Linked DNA regions of Homo sapiens. The protein of the gene in region 1 interacts with the protein of each later gene in a biochemical or structural test. Each region holds a gene or a part of one and is shown on either strand. Other genes may lie near its edges. The genes, in order: CD5 and CD72.

Region 1 (3,812 bases):
AAGGATGACGGCGGAAGCCAGGCAGCCAGCAGCTTCCCTCCCACAGTTTTTCTCCCCCCAGGACTGGGACTGACCTAACTCTTCCTCCTTCCCCAGGCCAGGATCCAAACCCCGCAGGCCTGGCCGCAGGCACGGTGGCAAGCATCATCCTGGCCCTGGTGCTCCTGGTGGTGCTGCTGGTCGTGTGCGGCCCCCTTGCCTACAAGAAGCTAGTGAAGAAATGTAGGTGTCACGGCCCTGAGTGGCTCCGTTCCCACGTGCAGAGACTGGAGGGGCTGCACTAGAGTCCTCCGGAGGAGGGGTCATGCCTCCAGAGAGCTGGGCACGCAGGACACCTCTGCTTCACCACCCAGCCTTCCCCTCTCCTGCCCATTAGCCATTTTCTGCCCCAAGTAACAGAAACACAAAGTAAACAAAATTGCAATTGCTGATTTGTCCATCTCTGGAGCCCAGCTGAGACCCACTCCAGGTCAGAGAGAAGGTGTGGCCATTCCCAAGGCTGTGGCAGGCCCAGAGGGTGTTCAGTACAGCCTCTGATGGTAGGAGACACACATCCCAGGCCTAGCCCCACCACTTACCACTGCCCAAGATGCTGATTGGGACACTTCCTCTCTCTGACCCTCAGTTTCTTCATCTACCAAATGGGCAATCGCACACCTTGTGAACGCGGGGGGTTGTTCTCCTTGCCTTGCAGAACTTAAGAGGAAATTATTCAGACAAAGAAGTGAGAGGGGAGAGATTGGGAACAGAGGGCCCAGCAGGACAGTGTTAGGTCCTAGTGCCTGCCCAGGTCTAGTTCTAAACGCCTGTGGTCTTTTCTCCTGGGGAGCCGGGCACCTCTACACCATCCTCGGCCTGCTCCTTCGGCACAGGATGGCTGCAATTCCCTTCCCGAGCAAGTTAGGAAACTGAGGCCTACGAGAGACTCCAGGGGGCAGAGCCCAGCAGCCCTGCCCTCAGCTGCACCTGCCGCCACCATCTCCCTCCCAGGCCCAGCCCCATCCCCACCCCTGCCTGCCCCCACCCATACCTGCCCCCACCACTCTGATGTGCCTTTCTTGTCTCTTGCCCAGTCCGCCAGAAGAAGCAGCGCCAGTGGATTGGCCCAACGGGAATGAACCAAAACAGTAAGTGTCCCCGGAGGCAGGAGCCTCCCTCAGGCCCTGGACAGAGGCCATGGAGGCAGAGTCGAGGCTCTCTGCTGACCACAGACGGAGCCTGTGGCTGCTTGAAGCCTCTGATCTCCACGGTGCTTGTCTGACATGTGACTGTGGCCAACAGACGTCCCCACACCAGGGAGGGCGGAGGCTTCTTGATGGGCTGATGGCTGAGCGGTTTCTACCGCTGAAGCCTCAGAGTGTAGAAACATCTCATGGTATCCTTTCTGTCCCTCGCCCCATCTCTAGGGTCCCCAGCAGCCCTCACCTCCTCCAGCAGTATTCCCCAACACAGTAGCCAGTGGATGTTAACAGGCAGCACTCACAAGAGGCCTCCCTGATCAACAGATCTGGAAAACCATGAGTTAGGCACAGCTAAGCATAGCTATTTCAGGACTTATCAGAACCTTAATGGGCATTTTTGTATTGCCCATCTCCAAAGCAAGGATCCATTAAGAAGGGCTGTCCAAGTTATTTTCATCATGGAACAACTTACAGGGCCAGTATTAGGACATTTTGGTGCAGCCAGCCCAACACCATCCCTGGTCTTCATCCTCCCTCCTTCCAGCCACAGTCAGAGACACCCTAATGGATGGAGACATGGCGCTCTTCCTGCCTCCCATTCTGCCTTCTTCCCCCTTCCCAAGTCCACAGCCAAATCCTTCAAGAGGGCTCTGTTGAATTTGTTATTAAGAAAGGCTCTGGAAACTTTCTTAATAACATACAGGCCCTCAGCTCCTGGAGGGCAGGGAGCAGATCTGTCCCGTCACCTGTGCTCCAGTCTCCTGCTTGGTAAATGCTTGATGACCGACTCACGGAAGGCCCCACCCTGCCAGTCAGATTGCTGGGTTACCCAAACCTGCTCTAAAAGTCTGCTGCTGATCCTGCTAGCATGAACCTCCCAGGAAGAAAGGAGAGGGGGATGCATTGAAGGGGCTGTGGGTGCCTTTGTCCTCTCCCCGCTAACATCATGGGAATAGGAGATTAAAGTTCTGGGCACCTGCTGGGGAAGGAGACGGAGGACACAGCCACAAGTCTGACACTGTCTCCTACCATCTGCCCAGTGTCTTTCCATCGCAACCACACGGCAACCGTCCGATCCCATGCTGAGAACCCCACAGCCTCCCACGTGGATAACGAATACAGCCAACCTCCCAGGAACTCCCACCTGTCAGCTTATCCAGGTAAGCACCAGCGGGTGCTCCCAGGCACGCAGGCAGGGCTGCAGCAGGCCGCCAAGGCAGGTCACGTGATGCCCTTGAAGGTCGGGTGATGGCCCAAAGACAGAATGGAGACCCCAGGGTGCAAGGGGATCAAACATCGCAGGATGCAGCAGGGGTACGGAAGGGATATAGCCTTTGCAGGCCCCAGCTGTCCCGTTTGAGACCACAAACTACTCATCTGGAGAGAAGAATGCACTCAGAAAGCCATCAACCCCAGCCTTGCTGTGACCTAATGGGCCTGTTTCCCTTCAGGGCCTTGAGGGGCCTGGATGGTAAATGAGGCCCCTTGGATTCCTCCGGGCTAGAAGAGAGCCATTAAGTGGGCTGCAGGAGCGCTGTACTAAAGGCTCCCAGACTGGCACTACCAATTAAGCCCCAGGGAGCCTGGAGTTCAGCATCATTAGTGAACGTTTGGCTGATTTGATCAAAACAGATAAGGGGTTGTCACCGGCTCATAAAGCCCCTGTGATCTTCCAACCCACTGTGGGCAGCGGCTCTAGGATCCAAGGGGCTCTGTGGAGTCAAAAACCCTCTGCAAACAGCGTCCTTTCTTTCCCCAGCTCTGGAAGGGGCTCTGCATCGCTCCTCCATGCAGCCTGACAACTCCTCCGACAGTGACTATGATCTGCATGGGGCTCAGAGGCTGTAAAGGTGAGCCCGTCTCCAGCCTGACCCCAGCACCCCAGGGTCCCCCACAGTCCTGGGGGTGAGCAGCAGCCACTCAATGCCTCCCCTCAGTCCCACCCTGCCCATACATGAATAGGGGACCCCCAGCATCTTGATTCTTGTAAAGGGAAAGACAAACGTCAGCTGTTTAGGTTATACGAGCTGATTTGACAATTAGAGCAGAGCAATCATGAACTTTAACAATCAACTCTTAAACTCCATTCGGAAGGCCACACAGGCAGAGTCCCTAAGAGCTCCGTGATGGAGTCACACCCCTCTAGAGCTGCCAACCTGCCAGCGGGCAGAAGGAGCCCCTGGCTCAGGACAGCAGCCGTCCCCAAGATGGAGCCCAGAGCATGGGTCCTGTCCCCGACCTCCCTGCATCACCTCTGCGGTGTCTTCCTCTAACACGTTTCCTTCTCACCCCACAGAACTGGGATCCATGAGCAAAAAGCCGAGAGCCAGACCTGTTTGTCCTGAGAAAACTGTCCGCTCTTCACTTGAAATCATGTCCCTATTTCTACCCCGGCCAGAACATGGACAGAGGCCAGAAGCCTTCCGGACAGGCGCTGCTGCCCCGAGTGGCAGGCCAGCTCACACTCTGCTGCACAACAGCTCGGCCGCCCCTCCACTTGTGGAAGCTGTGGTGGGCAGAGCCCCAAAACAAGCAGCCTTCCAACTAGAGACTCGGGGGTGTCTGAAGGGGGCCCCCTTTCCCTGCCCGCTGGGGAGCGGCGTCTCAGTGAAATCGGCTTTCTCCTCAGAC
Region 2 (3,278 bases), on another chromosome or scaffold:
GAAGAGAAGATGGAGTGCGAGGGCAGCAGCCCTGAGCCGGAACCTCCAGGGCCAGCGCCCCAGCTGCCTCTGGCTGTGGCCACAGACAACTTCATCAGCACCTGTTCCTCGGCCTCCCAACCCTGGTCCCCTAGATCAGGACCCGTCCTCAATAACAATCCCCCAGCTGTGGTGGTGAACTCCCCACAAGGCTGGGCTGGGGAGCCCTGGAACCGGGCCCAGCATAGCCTGCCCCGGGCGGCAGCCCTGGAGCGGACAGAACCCTCGCCACCCCCTTCAGCTCCCCGGGAGCCCGATGAGGGGCTGCCCTGTCCTGGCTGCTGCCTCGGCCCCTTCAGCTTTGGCTTCCTGTCCATGTGCCCCCGCCCCACACCAGCTGTTGCCCGCTACCGCAACCTGAACTGTGAGGCGGGCAGTCTCCTCTGCCACCGAGGGCACCACGCCAAGCCACCCACACCCAGCCTGCAGCTGCCTGGGGCACGCTCTTAGCAGTGGAGCCCGTGGTCTCAGGCCTCCAACTTTGGCCTTCAGGACACCCTGTAAGAACAGAGCACACTTGCTGGACAGTGCCAGTTCCAGATGGGCTGACCGGCTCTTCTCCCCGTGTAGGGGAGCCCCAGCATGGACTCAAGGGACAGAGCACTTCCAGTCGACCCCCCGGCTCGCGTTCCCGTGGGGATCACTGAACCAGACACAGCATTGCTGACACATGAGACTAACACGTGCAATTATTTAAAAAGATTTCAATAAAACTGCCTGGCTGGCTCCGGGCCGCCCCTATCCGCTCAGCCCGTGCGCCCTCCTCCCCCACCCCATTCTACCATGGGAAGTTCTTGGGGGGAGGCCAAAGTCCCTTCTAGAGGTGGCTTCACCCTTTTCCCAGGAACAGTCCAGTTTCAGGAAGAGGGAGCAGGCAGCAGACTGGCTGGAAGTGTCAGGTGTGGGTCAGCCGGTGGCTGGGCACTGCCCAGAATGAAGGAGATGGTCTGAGGAACCCCAGGCCTCAGGTTAGGAAGGAGGGGCACAGGTTCTTGTTGGCATGAGTGTCTGGAAAAGTAAAGTATCAGTGAGCTCCATGGTTGACTTAACTGAACCCTCATCCCACTCACCCCATCTCCTCCTCAGCTCTCGACAGCCACACCACCAGCCTCCCATAAGTTGTAGGCCTTACCTGTCCCTCCCTGCCCACCCCACCCTAACAAGCAGACCAAGCAACTGGAGGCTGTGGAGGAACTTTCATCCCAGGTACAAGTTTTCTCTCGGGCCCCTGGGCCCCTGCTCTGAGTCCCTGCTCTGAGTCCCTCTGCCCCTGGACTCCCCATGCCTCAGCCCCATCCCTCACTCTTACCAACTCAGTGCAAAGGACTGTCCTAATCTGGAAACCTGAAAGCTGTCATCTCACAGATGTAGGGAAGAGAACTTCTACATGACTCTGACTCCAGTGTCCACCATGACCAAGTTTTATGTACCTTGTTACATTTTGAGCTTTGAGCATAAGTCCTAAAAAGTAGTAAGGTAGAGCTGGGATATGCTCTGGACATATCCCACCCTCCCTTCTCTCCCCTTCCCCTGTATAAAACCTAAATCCTAACTCACCCTGCCTGCCTAAGGCCACATCTGGGCATGGTTCAGGACAGATGTCTGGAGTTCAACTAAAACAGACTTTAGAACCAGCAGAGGGAAAAATAACTCGAGATCTTAAAGATGGGAAGGCCAGGCTGGGCACGGTGGCTCATGCCTGCAATCCCAGCACTTTGGGAGGCCAAGGCGGGTGGATCACAAGGTCAGGACATCGAGACCATCCTGACTAACACGGTGAAACCCCGTCTCTACTAAAAATACAAAAAATTAGCCGGGCATGGCGGTGTGCGCCTGTAGTCCCAGCTGCTGGGGAGGCTGAGGCAGGAGAATGGTGTGAACCCCTGAGGCGGAGCTTGCAGTGAGCTGAGATTGCACCACTGCACTCCAGTCTGGGCGACAGAGCGAGACTCCATCTCAAAAAAAAAAAAAAGATGGGAAGGCCAATTGAGGAACATAAGGAGGTTGCCACCCTGTTTCAGGGTCCCTAGGGTTGATCCTCAATGGTACCCCACTGCTGTCTTGATCACAGTGAAGTGGAGCTTCGATGGTACCCCCGCTGCTCCCTTGCGTACTTCACTGAGGCAGCTCTAGTGCCCCAAGTGGCCGCTACTGAGAAAGTACAACCTCAGTTTGGGTGGCCTTCTCGAAGGATGGAGAAACGCTGCTGTCATCAGCTGTGGAGCCTTAACTAAATCCTTAATGTCTCCCCCTAAAAGATAGCGTAGGTCCCAACCTAGTAGTTACTGAAACAAAAAAGTATGTGCCAGGGACTTCTAGGTGGAAATAGAATGGAGAATAAGATTGCCCTAAGAAGTTATTAATCAAATAGAGGAAACAGACAAATAGGCAATTACAGTGTTGATTTATGGGAGAGTCCTGAGGGGACCAGGTGGGAAGGAAATCTGATTACCATGTCTTTATGGAGGGGATTATGGAGTTGAAAATACCCAGAAGTCCTAACAAACTTACCTAGTGCGTTGTGTATCATCAGTCAACTTCCAATCCTTGTTAGAGCTGAGGCCAGTCCAATATGAATTCCCTGAACCACCATTTGGCAACAGTGAATTTAAGAAGTAGTAAGAGTGCTGAGGGGAGATTCAGAGAGACCAGAGATACATGGAGAGTGATGAGAAATATGGAAGAAAATGCACACCCTAGGGAGGCCTCAGCTTTGGCAAGGGGGCTGTATATATGACAGCTCTTTGGTAACTTGTCCCTGAATCCATCAAGTGCCACCCTGCAGATGCAGGCTCACTGCTAAATTTGCCTTCCAGCTGAGTAAGAATCTCTGCCAGCCTTTGGAGGGGAGTCATTCTGTGTGCTGTTCTGGCCCCAAGGAACTAATCCCTACAATCCAGCCCACCAGGTGTGGGACCTCTCTGCCTGAGAGGCCACAAGAGTCCAGGAACCTGTCAAGCAGCCCAGGGAGCTGACCAGCAAGCTGAGATGAGATACACATTAAAGTAGAGGCCGGGCGCAGTGGTTCACACCTATAATCCCAGCACTTTGGGAGACTGAAGCAGGTGGATCACCTGAGGCCAGGAGTTAGAGACCAGCCTGACCAATATGGTGAAACCCCGACTCTATTAAAAATACAAAAATTAGCTGGGCGTGGTGGCATGTGACTGTAGTCCCAGCTACTCAGGAGGCTGAGACGGGAGAATTGCATGAACCCAGGAGGCGGAGGTTGCAGTGAG

Evidence for each region.
Region 2: the proteins of CD5 (region 1) and CD72 form a complex in vitro, tested with the Homo sapiens proteins (one study listed by BioGRID).

What each region holds. Positions count from the first base shown.
Region 1 is NC_000011.10:61,122,811-61,126,622, forward strand, and holds part of CD5 (T-cell surface glycoprotein CD5 isoform 1 precursor), read left to right. Parts: intron 1-96; coding exon 97-222; intron 223-1,073; coding exon 1,074-1,127; intron 1,128-2,221; coding exon 2,222-2,341; intron 2,342-2,940; coding exon 2,941-3,029; 3' UTR 3,030-3,031; intron 3,032-3,477; 3' UTR 3,478-3,812. UniProt on the Homo sapiens protein: Lymphoid-specific receptor expressed by all T-cells and in a subset of B-cells known as B1a cells. Plays a role in the regulation of TCR and BCR signaling, thymocyte selection, T-cell effector differentiation and immune tolerance.
Region 2 is NC_000009.12:35,609,254-35,612,531, forward strand, and holds the end of CD72 (B-cell differentiation antigen CD72), read right to left. Parts: intron 2,667-3,278; coding exon 2,551-2,666; intron 1,501-2,550; coding exon 1,371-1,500; 3' UTR 1,349-1,370; intron 1,048-1,348; coding exon of another isoform or gene 897-1,047; 3' UTR 729-896; downstream 1-728. Other genes in the region: TESK1 (dual specificity testis-specific protein kinase 1), read left to right, coding at 1-489. UniProt on the Homo sapiens protein: Co-receptor of B cell receptor (BCR) that plays both positive and negative roles on B-cell functions. Recognizes the Sm/ribonucleoprotein (RNP) self-antigen ligand, and coligation of CD72 and BCR inhibits BCR signaling.